Regions from separate parts of the Homo sapiens genome. Here region 2 is linked to region 1. Evidence: fine-mapped expression QTL. A gene starts in region 1. The other region holds a variant in brackets. All regions are shown on one strand. Distances are between the middles of the regions.

Region 1 (11,068 bases):
TTAAAATACAATCTTTCCTTCTAGTCAGAATAAGGAAAAAGATGACCTGATGCAAAAGGATAACATTTTAGTCTTAAAAACTGTTCTGATAGCTTCTGAGATCTATTCTGCCATGTGTTCCTCCTCCAAAAAGTCTATGGTCTTTTTCCCTTAGAATGCTTCATCTCTTGTCTTAAAGACAGACTACAGAGCAAATATCCAAGAGTTGGAGGAAAAATCAGTTTGTCATCAACATAAGTAATGATTTCCTTAATAATAATTTTAGAAACTTTTTTAGAGCTATTATCCAGAGGAAAGGGAATGGACCTAAACAAGAGAGAAAAATCTGGCACAAATCTATAGGGGCTTCAGGATCACTATTCCTTTAAATTAATGGTATATTTCGGAAAAGAATAGAAGAATATAATAAAGAGAAGGTATCTGGACAATAGAGGGCGTAGAGCTTCCAGATATCCATAGTCTCATTATGGTTTAGGATATAGAAATCAGGATTCCTCATCATCATGATTTTGTTAATACAGAAAAAGACTTCAGAGGGCCCTGAAGCCTAGTTCTAGTTCTTCACTTTGTATAGCATAATTCAAAACCTAATCAACTATACATTCCATTCACCTTGAGTATCTGTGGCACCCAGAAAGTGGTTGGTACACAGCAGTATCCACAGGTAACAGGAATTCTGAATTGGGTTTAGTTATATGTAGTAGCTTTGTCATGGTTTTACTCTTATAGAGTCACTTTCCACTTTGGGTGCAATCAACTACAGTAAGTACCTCAAAAAAGACAGCTTCCTGGGGATGAACAATAAACTCTTGAGAGTACATAGAAAGCACATTTACAGCTAAATATGTTTCCATCATACAGAGACAAAGGAAATTTGTATTGCTGTAACATACCTCTAAAAGCCAGTCTAGAAGTATGGACCTCATCTGTGGTTCCAAGTCAGAATGCAGAACTTCAAAATGTTTGTCATGAACATATCTGCTCTCCTTTTTTAACATGTTTAGCCAGACTTCTTTTGAACATCCCCAGCTATGGAAAGAGAGGAAAAAAACCATATATATATATATATATTTTTTTTTTTTTTTTTTTGAGACAGAGTCTCGCTCTGTGGCCCAGGCTAGAGTGCAGCGGCACAATCTTGGCTCACTGTAATCTCCACCTCCTGGGTTCAAGCGATTCTTGTGCCTCAGCCTCCCAAGTAGCTGGGAGTTACAGGTGCCTGCCACCAAGCCTGGCTAGTTTTTGTATTTTTAGTAGAGATGGGGTTTCACCATGTTGGCTGGGCTAGTCTCGAACTCCTGGCCTCAAGTGATCGACCTGCCTCAGCCTCTCAAAGTGCTGGGATTACAGGCGTGACCCACCATGCCCGGCTAAAAAACATAATTTAAATTGTGCAATCCATGTAATATACAAACTCTGTTTCACATAGATAAAATTCAACTTTCAGACATTGAAATGCAACTTTTAATTAGAACTTGGAAGAAGCTCTTAAAGTAAATAAGAAAAAAAACTTCTGCCTTAATTTTTGGAAACAATTTCCTTTGCATGAATAAATAGAAGCCTGAAGTAACACAGTGGGAACCTGGACTATGATCATCCAAACCTGCAGATTTCAAGGGAGTGCTTTCTAGTTCCACTTATTTATACTTTACAAAGGTTGCTGTTAAAAGATAACCACGTTGCTTTTCCCATAAGTGGTCTGAAGTAATCTGTGAAAATAGCTGGCTATTCACTTTACCTGGAAAACCCCACAAAATCATGCAAATCAAGAGGTTCAAATCTTTGTGTTCACTGTAAGAACACTCGTGAAACTGCCCAGGCTATCAAGGGTATGCATATATGAAAAACCACAAAGTGGCCGGCACAGTGGCTCACACCTGTAATCCCTGCACTTTGGGAGGCCAAGGTGGGTGGATCACTTAAGGTCAGGAGTTCGAGACCAGCCTGGCCAACATGGTGAAACCCCGTCTCCACTAAAAATACAAAAAATTAGCTGGGCGTGGTGGCATGCTTGTAATCCCAGCTACTCAGGAGGCTGAGGCAGGAGAATCACTTGCACCCAGGAGGTGGAGGTTGCAGTGAGCCGAGATCGTGCCACTGCACTCCAGCCTGGGCAACAACAGCAAACCTCTGTCTCCAAAAAAAAAAAAAAAAAAAAACACCATGAAGTATTTTTAAAATGTCACTTTACAGAAACAGCATGTGCCATTCTGACATTACAATGGTGGAGTTGGTAGGTGTACCCAGGCCAAGCAGTGGGACTGGACACAAGGTTGGTGGCCCAAAAAGAGTGCTGAATTTTTGCTGCACATGCTTAAAAATGCAGAGAGTAATGCTGAACTTAAGAGTTTAGATGTAGATTCTCTGGTCATTGAGCATCTCCAAGTGAACAAAGCACCTACGATGTGCCAACGGACCTACAGAGCTCATGGTCGGATTAACTCACACGTGATCTCTCCCTGCCACATCGAAATGATCTTTAGTGAAAAGGAACAAATTGTTCCTAAACCAGAAGAGGCGGTTGCCCAGAAGAAAAAGATATCCCAGAAGAAACTGAAGAAACAAAAACTTATGGCACAGGAGTAAATTCAGCACTAAAATAAATGCAATTAAAAGTGAAAAAAAATGTTTTCTCAAGAGCAATACAAAAAAGTTAAACACATAAGGCATGTGATCACAGTCAAGAGAAGTCTCAATCACCTCTAAATAGATCATCTACAGCAGGATCACCTATGGGGTGGGTAAGGTGGGACAGAATGCAGGGAAAGGGGGATTGGTGAGTTTAAGTGTCTGATTCCATTAAATTGCTTATTAAGGCCAATCATAAATTAATACAGTACATGTTTTGTATAAGCTGTACCTCTTAGTTACACTCATGGACTAGAAAAAAGAATTAAGTATAGACCTTATTAAGTTTGGTAAGAAATAAATAGGGTTGATACATCAATTGGAAAAGCTTCCTTTGAGTTGAAGCTGCAAGAAACACGAATAAAAATTTTAAAGGAAAAAGCTGTACATGTAAAAATGTTTCTATCTTAACAAAAAACTAATTCAGTCCTGTTAAGTCTTTATAGTACTCAGCAAGCAAATGAAAATAATTTTATAGAATCAGTGTTTTAAATACCCATATCATTTGCAACCAGCACTACTCTCAGATAAAATGACATATGATTAAATATTAGTAAACAATTTTTACACGTTTTTCTACTTTATGAAAGCAAAAGACAAAATAGTGCCATGTATTAAATCAGCACAACTTTATATCTTTGAAATAAAATTACTGAAATTTTTCTTACCTTAAATCAGGCAAAGGTGAAGGATTAATAAAAAGATTTTTAAATCTGTAATTTGTAAATCTGGAGAAATCACTTGTTCCTATTTCTTTGTGAGGTGTTTCAATGATAATGCAAGGACTGATCCCCCCAGATAATACAGGTGGCCAACAATTCTGTCATAAAAAAAAAGAAAAATATCAATTTGTGCAAGGAAAACCTTAGTTTTTGTAATGGATCTTTCATAAATGAAAGCTAATATGTCTAAAGAATCATAATTTTAGCTAACATAGATGGCAATATAGCTAATTTGACATTCACATTTTATAAACAAGCCATATAGCTCATATTGATTTTTATAAAGAGTAATAGGATGTTTTAGACAACAAAATGCAATTCTGGTAATAGAAGACACCAGGTGTCGAAGAAGGACAGTAATAACAAAATGCATCTGCAGTCTAAAATACTAATCACTTTCAAGATCACAGAATCGTTCTCTGTATCTAGCAATAGTAGCAGGGACCTTTTTTTTTTTTTTTCAAATAAGCTCTTTTTAAAAAAAGTGTGCTCTGATACTTTTGAATATTTGAAAGCAAAACCTTAAAAATGGAATCGATTACTTAAACGATTCTTTTCCCAATAATGCTGGTTTCAAACGCAATCACTATCTCCAAAGTGCTGCTTTCTGTAAAACACATAGGAAGAAGAGGTACCAAAGGGCTGCGTGCCAGGCTGTCAGTGATCTCACATCCTATTTATGCCCAAGAAGCAGCTATTAGGACCGTCTACTAGAGTCTGCGAGGGAACAAAGAGCAGTATATTGGACAGATTAGGCGGGCCCTGGTGCACCAGGCAGTTCCAAGAGGGAGGGATTTACAAAAAGGAACCAGCTGCTTGAAGGCACTTATTCTGCAGCTGTAGTAGGATTCGGGCACATAGAAACCACCCAAAGATAGGCGCCTTCCTGCTGACCTCTAGGGGCATTAAAAGTAAAAGTGTCAGAGGAATCTATCGCAAAGCAATAAACACATAATTCTATTCTTATTCATCTATCCTCCATTTTTCCCCCAAACCCACCCAGCCCAGTTCTGCATTACCCTAATTTCATACTGATGTTTCTTGGTGACCTCCTCTCTTCTTTTTTTGACATCCTGGAAAATAGAAAAGACCATTGGTAAACTAAAGTCCCAGCATGGAATTTCGTTCCTCCCTCTTTCTCCTTAAATCACCTGGGTAGTTTTCCTCTTCTTGGCCTGGATTATCTGGGCTTCTTGGGGGGATTCCGTCTGGCTGGGCTGGGGCTGCTGCTTAGCTTGTAAACGGCTACTGTAGTGAATTTTTAAAAAGGAAGTGTAATTAGTAAGTTAAAGGCAGCAACTAATTTGAAACATGTCTCTAAGACAGATAATGTTACCTTCGTCTTGACATTCTCTTCTTTCAGGTGTATAAAACCTCTGAAGGGGGGAGAGGAAAAGCCGCAGTCAAGTACATTGTCATTCACATTCTCCAAGTGCCAGTAAGACGCTGATTCGCAGGTGAAAGCTCAGTCCCTCCGAAGGGGGCCTGGGCCCTGTGACCCTGCCATCTTCTGTGCTATGTTAGCTAGCTCATGGTAATTCATTTTGGATACAAGCCTGCATTTCCTCAACTGAATGTACAGCTGGAACGCGAGTGTCCAAAAATTTACCAAGCACTCCTGACACCTTGAACGCGCAGGGAGGCACATCTTCCTCAAACGGGTTTTTCTGGGTCCTCCACCCTCTCCCCCGTACACCGGGAGTGGGGCTTGGGCAGCGCCCCCACGTCCCGCCTCCCTCCTGGACCAGCGGGGAGAGGGGGTTGTGGAGGCGAAATGCTGTGGAGAAGCCGGTTCCGCGCCAATTTGGAGAGCGGCGGTGGCGGGGAAGCAGGGGGCGGAGGAACCAAGACTGGTGTCACGGCCTCCAGTCTCCTTTCCCTCCTTCCCGGCCCTGCCGCCCTACCGCCGCTCGGAGGGGCGCCGGGACCCCAACTCCAGATGGGAAGCGGAGGGCGTGGGGGAGGGCAGGAAAAGGAGCTAAAGAAAGGGGAGACTGGGCTGGCTGGGAACTTTTCTCCCCATGGAGGGGACCCGGCCTCCCATCCTCTCTCCCACGGGATAGCTCCCCAAATGAGGGTGGGATAGAGAAGCCCCTAGAATGAGGGGCGGCTCTCCATGCCCAGCCGCTTCCCGGTCCCCTGCCAAGGTTCCTGACAGGGACGGAACGCGGGAACCCATGACCCCCAGTCGTCTAGTTCTCAGCCCTCCCGATTTTCCTCCCTGAGGCTCCCGCCTGTGGTAAGTGATCGGCCCAACTGGGCTTTCTTTCCTCCCACATCCCCCCTACGCGCAGCAACTCCTCACCGCCAGACCAGCTACCGCTCGGCTCAGCTGGCGCCGGCGCCAACCCAATATATAGGCCGGGCCGGTCCCGCCCCGCACGCATGCGCCTCAGACTGACACCTCCGGACAGCGCGCTCCCCTCTCCCGCCCGTCCGCCCGCGTGCCCGCGCGCCGCGCCCTGCTCTCAGTGCGCGCCCGCCACCCGGAGCGGCCGTGGGGTCCACTCTACCGGGCCTTCTGCCCGCGTCCACCGCGCTCCACGGCGCGGCCGGCGGCGGTAGGGAAACTCTCAGGGGCTCCTTCTCCGCGGCTGTTCTCCCCGCCGCCTGGCTCGCGCATCTCCCGCCAGTTTGCTTTTGCTTCCTCCCACTGCAACTCCTGGATTTCGGGGGTGTCAGCCTGCGGCTCAGCCCGGGCGCATAACAGGGGGACACGACTCGGGCGACCATAGGGTGGCTGGGAAGTGACCGTCCAGGGGCGCGCCCTAGCTGTCCCGCCAAGGCCTCAGGGAACCCAGGTCTTTCCTGAGCGACGCGGGGACCCGAGGGCCCGCCCCTCGGGGAGGAGCAAAGCGTTGGCTGAAGAGCTGGCCAATGGGAGGCACGGGCGGCAGCACAACGTGGAGTGGCTGCAGAATGTAAACACCACTCAGCCACGCGCCTGGCCAAGTGCGGCTCTGCTCTCCCCAGTCCCGGTCCGCGACCACCCGGAGCCCGCTCCGCCGGCCTTGCGCGGCGCGCCCAGGGAAGGCATTTCCAGCCCGCCCACCCAGGTATGTATCAACCCTGCTTTCCGGCTCCCTGCTCCCCCTACCGGGTTTCCCTCCCCATGGGTCGGTCGCTCCCCCAACCCGCCGCTCTGCCCCTGCAGTGGCCTCCAGCTGCCACCCCGCAGTCCCCGCGCAGGAAACGCTCGCGCCACGCCGCGCCCTCCCTTGCTTCCTCTCTTCTCCACCTCCAATTCCGGGATCCCAGAGGGTAAAACCCCTCTCCGGAGCGGGGCCCGGGAACGGCATTCCTCCTCCCCCTGAGCGCGGTGGTCCCCGGGGACCTGGCCGGGTGGGAAGAAAGATCGCCACCACGTGCAGGCCCCGGGCCCGCCTGCCGCGCCCCGCCCCGCCGCCGCCGCCAGCGCGCCCTGCGGAGCCCGCGCGAGCCGGCAGCGCGGGAGGGCGCCGTTCGCGCCCGAGCGCTGTTGGGAGGAGGGGGGCCCGACGCTCTTCCTTTATCCTTCCCCGGGTGTTTAAACTTAGGGGTCCCTTCGCTGCCTCTATGAATGCCCCCACAACTGGCGCACCCCAAAACTGCACATCGTCAAGTCAGACTTGCGGCGGGTATTCCGCAAACAGGTTTTGCGGCGGGAGCAGCGAGGCGGGGAACAGCTCCGGGAACAAAGATCCCCCGGGTGGAGGAGCAGTGCGAAGGCGTCTCGGAACCCGCGGTAGCTCGGGCGGGCCGCGTCTGCCCAGGCCCTGAGCGAGCCGGACGGCGAGCGGGCCGCGCCGGGGAGACGGAGCCTCGCGGGCGGGAGCCCTTCCCGAGATGCACCGGGAGGCGGCGCCCGGCGACCCCCGCTCCCGCCCGGCCTTTTGTGCTGCGCCGCTCGAGCGCGCTTGAGGCCCGGGAAATAGCCGCCGCCGGATGGGCGCTTTGGGGCGGGCGAAGTCCTTTTTCACACTTTTTCGATTCTTCGTCTCGTGACGCCGGCAAAATAATTCTCTCCCTAATTTACCTGTAGGAGCTTTGCCCAAGGTGACAGCATCAGGAGAAGCCCATGCCTTGTCAGTCCCAAGAAACTTTCTGCCATTTCTAACGCTTAGGATGGCTCTCGGCGGGGCAGAAGTTGCCTCCCTTTTGCAGTCACTCAAAACGCAGTTAGCGGTATAGCTAGCTTAAAGGTCTAACAGCATGATGTCAAGAAAAGGGGTCAGGGGTCTCCCAACAAGGGTCACCTGATCGTAAGCAGAACTGGTGGCCCTCGTGGTTGAATTTGATAAAATATACTGAAAACCAGTATGTCGAGTAACGTTTGTGGGAATCATCTTTGAATGATGAATGTATGCTCAGTACTGAGTTAACTAGTAAATTGATTTTAAAAGACACTGCTCTTATAAATGTTCTTTCCATACCCTTGACTATTATGTGAACAGAATGCAATCATAGTAAAGGAGAAATTAGAAAATTCCAAGACGTCTTTGTGTGGAAAGGAATAGAGTGAATTCTCCCATATTACAGATACCTGGTCAATAGACAAGTGGGTCTGTTAAAAAAAGAGAAAATAAAGGGTAGGGGGCGGGTATGTTTGTTTTTAGCTTGCTCTTTTCCTACTTATCCGTTTTAAAATTCACCTAAAGTATATTTCCCCTATTGTACATGTAAAGTTAAAACACCATGGTAAATAAACTGTTGGCCTCTACCATGCTTCTCTGGGGTAACTATTTTGATTGCTCCGACATTCATTTTCAGGAGGAAAAAACCCCAGAAGATGCTTGGAGGCACAGGCTTAAAAAAAAAAATTCAGGCTTAGCCCACCCATTTCTTTATTCTGTGCCTTTTTTTTTTTTTTTTGTATATCTCCTCTGTCGAAGCTTCACAGATCCTTTTCCCTGTGCTACAGTTATGCTCATCTTACAGGACAAAAATTACTTATTTAAATGTCTTTTATTTCCAACTCGACCTCGGAAATTGTTTTGTTCATCTTTTTATAGCCAGTATTCAGCAGTTCAAAGGCATATATAGTAGGACTTGGGTAAATGCTGATTTGAATTGTATGTAGGATATCCCATTATAGAATTTTAGGTCTCTAGGTTACCATGATGGATGATAGACGGATGGTGGAATTATTCCCAATAAATACCAGGCTTTTAAAAACATTAATAGACTTTATTTTTTAGAACAGTTTTAAAGAAAAATTGAGCAGGTGGAACAGGACTTCCATATACTCACTCCCCTCTCCCACCCACCACACATGCACAGTTTCCCCTGTTATTGACATCTTATAGTATGGCATATTTATTACCCTATGATGTGTTTGCTATTTAATGAATCAATGTCGATGTGTTATTATTAACTAAAGTCCATACTTTATTCCTATGTCTTTAGTTTTTACCTAATATCTTTTTATTGCTCTAGGATCTCGTCCAGGATACCCATCACATTTAGATGTCATGTCTTAGGTTCCTCTTGGCCATGGCAGTTTCTCAGACTTTTGTTTTGATGACCTTAACAGTTTTGAGGAGTGCTGGTCAAGTATTTTGTAGGCTAACCATGCGACAAAAACATCAGATGAATTCCGGTAGACGAGTTGACTGGGGTTATGGGTTTGGGGAGGAAGATCATAGAGATAAAGTACCATTTTCATCACATCATACTAAGAGTTCATACCGACATCATGATTTATTACTGTTGATGTTGATCTTGACCGCTTGGCTGAGGTAATGTTTGTCAGGTTTCTCCATTGTAAAATTACTCTTTTTCCTCCCTTTCCATACTGTGCTCTTTGGAAGGAAGTCACTGTGTGCAGCCCACACCTAAGGAGTGAGGAGTGATCTTTTTTAGGGTGAAGTATCTGTATTATTTTAATTTATTCTGCATTAGAGATTTGTCTCTTTTTCCCCATTCATTAACTTAGTCATTTATTCCTATCAGTATGCACTCATGGATATTCGTTTTATAATTTGAATTATAATTCAATAATACTTTATCTTGTTGGTCAGATTGTTCAAAACTTTCACCAAGGTATTTTTCATACGTTTTTATTGTCATGAGACTCATTTGAAGCTAAGCAAAAATGAATGGTGCTTAATAATAGTATTTCTCATGTAACAAGAAAGGAATAAAACATTTTCTTCCCATTTAATGAAACTTGCTTATCCTTCATGCTTATCTAAAACATACATAAAGGAAAAAAAATCTTTGTATTTTAGTAGAGACAAGGTTTCACCATGTTGGTCAGGCTGGTCTTGAACTCCTGACCTTAAATCAACCGCCCGCCTCGGCCTCCCAAAGTGCTGGGATTACAGGCATGAGCCACTGCACCTGGCCAATTTTTTAAATTAGAATCAGGTGAGATGCAGTTTTAAAAACAATTTTATTGTTAAACAAATACATTTTACTGTAAGATAGTTTTGACTTCACATTCTACTTTGAAGCGTCATTGAGACCTCTAGATGTCCACAGAACACACTTTGAGAACTGCATACATAGTTGCCCAAACCAGAATCCTGGGAGTGAACTTAGTCATTCCTTTTTTCTTCTTTTCTGAGCTTCATAATCATAGTTAATATTTCCTGGGTAAGATAATGTGCTAGGCTGTACCCCAAGCCTTCACATACTATTAACTCCTTCAATCTTCCACCAACACTATAAGACAGGTGCTAATGACTGTCATTCCTGGTTTATAAATGAGGAAGCTGAGGCACAAGTGTAGTTTGCCTAAGATCCACAGTAGAGTCTGACTCCAGCTCACCTGTGCTGTGCTGCCTCCATTTATCACCAAATTCCTTTCTCTTCTGTTCCCAAGTCATTTCCACATTCATGCTTTATTTCCCTCTGCCTTAGTTCAGGACACCATTCTCTCTTCAGTGCAATACTCTTCTAACTGGTTTTCCTGACATGCATTGCCTCTTGCAGTCTGCCTTCCAACCTGTTGCCAAACTGCCCTTCCAAAGCACAGATGCCACTCCTTAAAACCTTTCTGTACCTCCGCTTGGATTAACAGTCAAACCCCAAAACTTAAACACACAAGACCTCTTGCGCCCAGGAGATCCCCCTACATGGAGCTGTCCACATCCCCTGTCCTTCTCACCTTGGGACCTTGGCACCTGCACCTCATTCTCCCCACCTCCATTGCCTTTCCCCAGCTAGATCCCATTTATTCATTAATACTCAAACACTGCCTTTTCTAGAAAGCTGTCTTGCCCTGTTCTGAAGTAGGACTTTCCTTTGTAGCACCTCTTCTCCAACTTATGCTTGCCTCTACCCCTGCTTGTCTCTGCCAGGCTGTAGGGAGCCCCTGGGGACAGGGGCTGTCTCTTTCAGGGCTGGCCTGGGGCCTGGTGGACCGCAACCCTCTTTGTGGGATAAATGGAGGGGAGGGGGCAGAGGTGTGCTCTCGGTGGGGGGCCCTTGGAACCTAACTCCAGGGAACAGTCCCTTGAAAGAGTTTTGCAGCTGGCACCTTGGAGGGCTCAGCAGGGTGGCAGCAGAGCACTGCCCTCTGCTCCTGAGCTCTGAGGACACCAGAGGCACCAGGGAGTCTAGGTAGATGAGCCTCTGGCTCTGCCAGTGCTGCACTTGGCTGCCACCTCAGAGGGAGGGCCCTTAAAAAGGAAGGCATTGTAGATTGTGAGACGTAGACAGCGCACCTCAGAGATGGTCAGTTCAGCTCCTTCATGATTCCTGAAACTCCACAGTGAGGAGAGAGAACAGAAAAG
Region 2 (8,000 bases), 31 kb before region 1:
TTCTAAGATTATATCTTTCATGTGTTAATATTATACACACTCTGAGTAAGTAGTGGGTTTTTCTCACTTTCTGGTTTTACAGTTAAAAAAAAAACAAAGTAGGCTGGGCGTGGTGGCTCACGCCTGTAATCCCAGCACTTTGGGAGGCCAAGACGTGCGGATCACAAGGTCAGGAGTTCAAGACCAGCCTGGCCAATATGGTGAAACCCTGTCTCTACTGAAAATACAAAAATTAGCCAGGTGTGGTGGCAGGTGCCTGTAGTCCTAGCTACTCAGGAGGCTGAGGCAGGAGAATCGCTTGAACCCGGGAGGCAGAGTTTGCGTGAGCTGAGATGGTGCCATTGCACTCCAGCCTGGGCAACAAGAGCGAAACTCTACCTCAAAAAAAAAAAAAAAAAAAAAAAAACCCAAAAAACAAAGTAAAACATGTAGTGATTTAACATTATACGTCCCTGTCTCCTTTTTGGGTATATTTGGTGCTTCAGATTTTCCCATTATTTTTAATTGTTCCTATTACCTTTTGTTATTCTTTGTTTGTCCCAACTTGTCTTTGGTAATACAAAGTCCTTTAAATCGGCTGGGTGCAGTGGCTCACGCCTGCAATCCCAGCACTTTGGGAGGCCGAGACGGGCAGATCACGAGGTCAGGAGATGGAGACCATCCTGGCTAACAAGGTGAAACCCCGTCCTTACTAAAAATACAAAAAAAATTAGCCGGGCGTAGTGGCGGGCTCCTGTAGTCCCAGCTACTCGGGAGGCTGAGGCAGGAGAATGGCATGAACCCGGGAGGCGGAGCTTGCAGTGAGCCGAGATGGCGCCACTGCACTCCAGCCTGGGCGACAGAGTGAGACTCTGTCTCAAAAAAAAAAAAAAAAAAATCCTTTAAATCTGTGTTTTTCTGGGAACTTTTGTAAAACTGTGCCACTTTGTAACATTTGTGTTTGGTTACTTGTTTCTTCCTTCACGTATGTCCTTTTAAAAACTGAGCTCATTTCATTTTAACCCTTTCAGGATTTATTGAGTTTATTGATTTCTTCAGTTTTTCCCCCCTTTTTGTAATTTTTTTTTTTTTTTTTTTTTTTGAGACGGAGTCTCGCTCTGTCGCCCAGGCTGGAGTGCAGTGGCGCGATCTCGGCTCACTGCCAGCTCCGCCTCCCGGGTTCACGCCATTCTCCTGCCTCAGCCTCCCGAGTAGCTGGGACTACAGGCGCCCACTGCCATGCCCGGCTAATTTTTTGTATTTTTAGTGGTGACGGGGTTTCACCGTGTTAGCCAGGATGGTCTCAATCTCCTGACCTCGTGATCTGCCCGCCTTGGCCTCCCAAAGTGCTGGGATTACAGGCGTGAGCCATCGAGCCCGGCCCTTTTTTTTGAGACGGAGTTTTGCTCTTGTTGCCCAGGCTGGCGTGCAATGGCACGATCTCGGCTCACCGCAACCTCTGCCTCCCAGATTCAAGCAATTCTCCTGCCTCAGCCCCCCGAGTAGCTGGGATTACAGGCACGCACCACCACGCCTGGCTAATTTTGTATTTTTAGTAGAGATGGGGTTTCTCCATGTTAGTCAGGCGGGTCTGAACTCCCGACCTCAGGTGATCCGCCCACCTCGGCCTCCCAAAGTGCTGGGATTACAGGCGTGAGCCACCGCGCCCGGCCCGGCCCTTTTTGTTATCTTTACACTTGCTCGTGAAAACTGCCATACTTGAATTACCCTTTTCTTTGAAATTTCAGACATTGAATCATATCTATCTCTTCTTTTTTTTGGAGACTGAGTCCCCCTCTGTCGCCCAGGCTGGAGTGCACTGGCACAATCTCGGCTCATTGCAACCTCTACCTCCCAGTTTCAACCCATTCTTGTGCCTCAGCCTCCCAAGTAGCTGGCATTACAGGCATGCACCACCACACCCGGGTAGTTTTTTTTTGTTTTGTATTTTTAATAGAGACGGGGTTTTGCCATGGCAGGTCTAGAACTCCTGACCTCAGGTGATCCCCCCGCCTGGGCCTCCCAAAGTGCTGGGATTACAGGCATAAGCCACCGTGCCCGACCTGAATCATTTCTATCTCTTTAGTGAACTTTCTGGCATGTGAGTTCTTAATATATTGGGCACTTGTCTCATTATGGACACCAGTAATTTCTTAGCCTTTAAGAAAATCAGATGAGGGAACCGTTGTGTTCCAAGGTTACTGTCATTTACACTTACAATCATAGCTTGTCACTGAGTGCAAAGACAGCATAGTAACTCTTCTCTTTACCTCTGGCAGTGAATTCTGTGGAGCTGTGCACCAGGAGAGATAGGCATGTGTTTGTGTAATGAATGCTTGAGGGTCTGCAATGTGTAAGGACACAGGAAATTGTTTTGTTGGTTGCCTAACTCTGGGAGAGGCTGTCTCACTGCTTCCTGCAGTTCCCCTGATCTGGTCCAAAAGGAGGAAGGATGTGTGGTGACTTTGCGAAAGAATTGTCACTTAGATGTCTCTTCATATGTCATCTGGTGGTTAGGGTTTTGTGTGCCACCTTCCATACATAATTGGCCTCTCACTGCCTTGTTAATGTCAAGGAAAAAGGAATTAGAGAAAGAAGTTTAGAATGAGGGATTGTGTTTTGAAAAAAATACAATCTGAATCAGTTTCCACACTTCCAAGCTGGTGTGGAATGCACCACACACACACACGCACACACGTGTAGGAAAAAGTCTGAAAGGATATTAACAGCCATTATCTCTAGATAATGGGAAATTTGGTGATTTTAATGTTTTCTATTCTGTTACATAGGAACATATTTTCCTACTCATATATTACGTAATCACAAATAGGAACAGAAAATTCTTAAGCATGTCACTAAAATATACCCTTTTGAAATAATATAAAACTGTCTAGTCTGCCCCTTGGATCAGAGTGGGTGGCAGTGTCACATAATGGAAAGGGCACAGGTTATAGGCACTTGGATGATAAGAACCTAGGTAGTAGTGGGGGGTTGGCAGCCACAGTGGTGCTAGTATAGGCTAAAACCTTAGGTTGTTCATGTGGCCTACCAGGCTTCTTAAGGTGTGCATGCTTCTCCTCCTCCAGGTGCAGTTCCCCTGCCCCTTGGCGTTCCAGCCCTGTGCTGGCAGCACCAGCATGCCCACGCCATGTTTCCATTCTGCACCTGTGCACACGCTGTTTGTCACATTAGCCAGGATGTCCTTTCCAGCTTTGCGTGTTTGTGTGATTTCTCTGATGCTTTCCCATATTCTTTTCTCTGTAAATGAGT[A/G]AATCACTTCCTCTTCCTGCTTCCTTTGTACTGTTGTACTGATCCTGCTACTGTTGTACTGTTGACTTATTTCTTTTGTTGTGTTTATGCTGAATAGTAAGTTATATATCCACTTGTCTTCTCTATAAGACAATGAACTGCTTCAGGGCAGTTAATTTTTATGTTGTGCTTTCCATGATGCCCACCACACATAGTAGGTGCTCAAGAATGTTTGTGGAATTCAATTGATTTGAGGCCTTAGACTTTGAAAATTTTTTAAATTAAATTTATGTAATAAATTCAGTGACCTTAAAGCATATGATCCCTGACAACAGAAGATGAATTTGAGCTAAGAGCTACAGTAGCCCTGGCATTACACTGCAGTGAATAGCTGCATGTATTGTGATTCCATTTGTCAGAGAAGAGTATTTTAGGTAAGCTTGCAGGATGAAATATCCTGCTAGGCCATTGGTCCATGTCTATTCACCTAGTATAGGCAGGGTTTTTATGTTATTCTCACGAGCTTCGGAAAGCCACAGTACTCTTGTTAATTTTCTTAGGCATGATCACAGAGTTGTGGTTATGGAGAAGAATGTCCTCGTCCTTAGAAGATGTATGTGGAAGTATTTAGGGATGAAATATTGTGTCTAACTTAGTTTAATATGGTTTAACAAAAAAATTTATGTAGATATATAAAGCAAACATGGCAGAATAGTCACAATGTGTCAGGTATTTATTGAACTTTTTTTTTTATTTTTCTGTTTGAAATTTTTCATAACAAAAAAATGTAGAGAAAAACCACCAATTTTTGTCCTTGTCACAATCTTGCCACCTCCTTAAAAAAGCCGCCTTAAGCAGTAGGGACCCCTAGGTCCATTTTAAGTAGAAACCAGGGGTTCCTGATGGATTTGAAATTATCCTTGCTACTGCACCCTCTACAAGAGCGATGGAGTATAAAAGTTAATATGAACAAGGGTAAAGGGGCCCAGTTCTGAATTTGGCCAGATGCTGTGGCTCAAGCCTGTAATCTCAGCACTTTGGGAGGCCGAGGCGGATAGATCACTTGAGGCCAGGAGTTCGAGACCAGCCTGGCCAACATGGTGAAACCCCGTCTCTACTAAAAATACAGAAATTAGCCGGGCATGGTGACACATGCCTGTAATTCCAGCTACTCAGGAGGCTGAGGCACAAAAATCGTTTGAGCCTGGGAGGCGGAGGTTGCAGTGAGCCAAGATTATACCACTGCATTCCAGCCTGGGTGCAGAGCAAGACCCTGCCTCCAAAAAGAAAAGAAAATAAAAGAAATTCTGAATTTATTGTAAGTCAATCTTTCCCTGTCTTTTGCTTTTAGCTTTCCCACTCTTTATTTCTGGGTCCTCCCTACATCCTAGGTCATTGAGGCTGCCTTTATTCATACCAGTCACTTTGTGTAACCTGTCCTGCCTTAATTCTACCTCCTCAGAAGAGCAGTAGCTCCATTCCCAGTTGCTACCAATTTTCTTAGAGAAAAATTGCTTTAAATCTATATCCCTTAATTCTGCCAACTTCAGTTTCCTTATTCCTTTCCTTATTTTTTTCGTTGAAACAATTTTTTTTTTTAGTGATTAAAAGTTGTATGTGTGTGTATTTGCACGTGGGAGAGAGAGAGATCTGAGCACTATTTTAACCTCACCCCCTGGGCTTTTACCACAGTTAACATCTTGGTGTATGCCTTCCATTACACTTTTTTTTCCCTATGTAACGTGGGATCATACTATGTGTATTTAGCAACTCGTTTTTTTTTCCACTTAATAAATCACCTATCTCTTTGCGTTGTCTCATTTTCGTTTTCATTAGACTATAACTGTTCAGAAACAAAGTTCGTATGCTCGAACCAGAGGATCTTTCTCAGATTCAGATCTGTCAGTACGCAATGAGCCCTAAATTCCTCAAAGGTTGTACAGAATGCACAGCATAAAATAACTGTGCTTAGTATGTTTGGGCAGTCATTCCATCTTTCCTCCAGTGTGCCTTGATAATAGAACTAATGTGCACGACATTACAGATTATCTTTTGTGTATTTTGTTTTTCATGTTATAGCTTGGACAGCTTTTAGCAGCTACATGCAAAGAACTTCCAGGCCCTAAAGAAAGTAGACGGACTGCCAAAGACCTTTGGGAAGTTGTTGTTCAAATCTGTAGTGTGTCCAGTCAGCACAAACGAGGAAATGATGGCAGAGTTAGTTTAATAAAACAGAGGGAATCTACGTTAGGTATCATGTATCGGTATGTATTGGTACGTTTCTATTAGTTGTGTTTGAGTTCTTAATATTTATCCTATTTATACTATTAACCTATTAAAGGTTGATTTCAAGAACATCAGCTTTTATTCTGTATATCATAAAGTTGGACAATCTTACGAGTTCTGTAGTACTCACCTGTGATGAACCTGTCTGCCTTGGCCACCTTTGGAAAGATCTTTTGTTTATATGTCATTTTAAGAAACTATTAATCATTTAATCAACTGGAATTCAAAATCAGTAGTATTTAAGGTTGGATAGTATTGAAGACTTCACATGTGATTAAAACAGGGAAGAAATGTTATTAGGTTAGTATAACAGTAGAATATTACATTCCTTTTCACACTTGCAGAATTGGAGCATTAAGAATAAACCTTCACCTATAATTTACTTTCTTGATTTTATTTTTTATTTCTAATATTAAATGTGTATTCAAAAATTTTTGTTTTGTAGGAGTGAACTGCTTTCTTTTATCAAAAAATTACGAGTAAGTTTTATTAAAAATTGCTCTAATTACTATTGCTGGTTTTTGTAGAATATGACTAAAAATTATTGGGTACTTCAAATACTGACTAAATTATTATTTGTTTTTTAATTTTTTTTTAAGGGACAGGGTCTTGATCTGTCACCCAAGCTGGAGTGCTGAGGTGTGATTGTAACTCACTGCGTCTTCTAATTCTTGAGGTTAAGCAGTCCTCCTGCCTCAGCTTTCTGAGGAACTGGGACTACAGGCACATGTAACCATGCCCAGCTAATTTTTTGTAGAGATGAGGTCTCCCCTTGTTGCCCAGGCTAGTTTCTAACTCCTGGTCTCAAATTATCATCCCTTCTTGGCCCCTCACAGTGCTGGGATTACAGGTGTTAGCCACCTTGCCTGGCCTCTGGTTAAATTATTAAAGTGACCTGTTAATGTGCTTTTCTTCAGTGATCATTATTGGTGGGTGGGATATTCTGACTGGAAAAGTTTGTATTGCATTTACTTTACCATGTTTTAGTGAACGGAGCAGGTATTTCTTTAAATTGTAAAGAAGTCTTCATAATAGGGGCTAGATGTGTGAAGCCTGGCTTTAATTTTTGCTTAGTAGGATCAATGTCATATTTACTTATTGGACGTAACCTAGGTTTCACTCTTTGAACATTATTTTAAGGGATAAAAAGTTACTTGAGAGTCATGTGAGGAGTTGAGCGTGGAGATAGCACCATAAGCCAAACATTTATGCTAATTTTATGTAAATTATGTGCTATGGTCCACGCCCCGCCCCCACATGCGATTAAAAAGTTGATTTTTAGTGTGCTAAAGCACATGCTAAAACAGATGCTACATTTTCAAAAGGCAAGGGTCTTTTAGAATGCTTGATGTCTGTGAGGTTGACAGGAGCAATATTAAATAAATATACATACACTGTTTAAGGATTCTGTGTTTTCTTTCTCATAGGAACCACTCGTTTTGACTATTATTTTATCACTCTTTGTGAAACTTCACAATGTTCGGGTAAGTATTTCATAATTTCATTTAGAAAAATTTAAAAGAAATTTCTTTGTAAATCACACCTTTTTTTTTCTTTTTAAAGGAGGACATTGTGAATGATATTACAGCTGAACACATTTCTATTTGGCCATCTTCCATTCCCAAGTAAGTAGTGGTATAGCTTTTATTTTATTAATTGAGTTATGTATTTGGAAACCATTCTGACTAGTATAGATACCCTTAGATAATTTTATTAAAGGGCCAGAAATCTAAGATTCTACAGTCTTTGTGTTTCTCTATTATGATAATGATAATTATCTTCCTGTAAATTGTGGATAAGGCATAACCCTTTTTTTTTTTTTTTTTTTTGAGGCAGAGTCTCACTCTGTTGCCCAGGCTGGAATGCAGTGGTACAATCTCTGCTCACTGCAATCTCTGCCTCTTGGGCTCAAGCAATTCTCATGCCTCAGCCTCCCAAATAGCTGGGATTACAGGCACCCACCACCACGCCTGGCTAATTTTTGTATTTTTAGTAGACACATGGTTTTGCCATGTTGGCCAGGCTGGTCTCAAACTCCTGACCTCAAGTGATCTGCCCACCTCAGCCTCCCAAAGTGCTGGGATTACAGGCAGGAGCTACCACACCTGGCCCAGCATAACTCTTAAGTAGGAGTTAAGATTTATCAGCCTTGGAACAGAAGATATAAGTGGTCCTGATTTTCAGTAGAATTGGAAAATTGGGGCCAATGAAAGAATGACTTTCTATCAGGTTTCCAGCATCTTATTTCTTTTACAAGTATCTATTTGAAAGTGATTTCTTTTTTCATAATTTTTTGTATGTCTCATCTAATGCTGCAGTTATCAAAAGGCTCCCAATCTCTTTTAGTTGCTGTAGGAACTAAACTAAACTTCTTTAATTACTTTGAGAAATATTCCCTTTTGCATGCACTACCTGAGAATCACAGTAAGATGATGGGGACTTTTTTTAGGGGAGGAAAAAGGGTTCATTTACTTGAAGAAATCATG

Which allele goes with the higher level. Alleles are on the strand shown, and positions count from the first base shown. SD is a standard deviation of normalised expression in the study named.
As copies of G replace A in region 2, the expression in monocytes after Pam3CSK4 of the gene that starts at base 5,680 in region 1 goes up (large effect, 1.1 SD a copy in Quach 2016).

What was found.
Region 2: its variant is fine-mapped to the expression of CCNE2 in monocytes after Pam3CSK4 (Quach 2016, PIP 0.95).

What each region holds. Positions count from the first base shown.
Region 1 is chr8:94,889,522-94,900,589 of GRCh38, forward strand. CCNE2 (cyclin E2) reads right to left here and starts at 5,680. Exons shown (of 12, transcript NM_057749.3): 1 at 5,656-5,680; 2 at 4,687-4,726; 3 at 4,502-4,598; 4 at 4,370-4,423; 5 at 3,297-3,448; 6 at 894-1,029. The coding sequence starts at 4,700. It also overlaps the pseudogene LOC100128548 and a transcript of NDUFAF6 not described here. RefSeq lists an enhancer at 4,492-5,053 and silencers at 5,670-5,889, 6,270-6,369, 6,500-6,549, 6,720-6,769, 7,050-7,269.
Region 2 is chr8:94,860,199-94,868,198 of GRCh38, forward strand. INTS8 (integrator complex subunit 8) reads left to right here. Exons shown (of 27, transcript NM_017864.4): 17 at 5,308-5,492; 18 at 5,960-5,993; 19 at 6,942-6,998; 20 at 7,078-7,139. Among named protein-coding and RNA genes, the nearest start is that of CCNE2, 31 kb to the right of the region's middle. The variant A/G (reference allele first, on the strand shown) is at 3,250.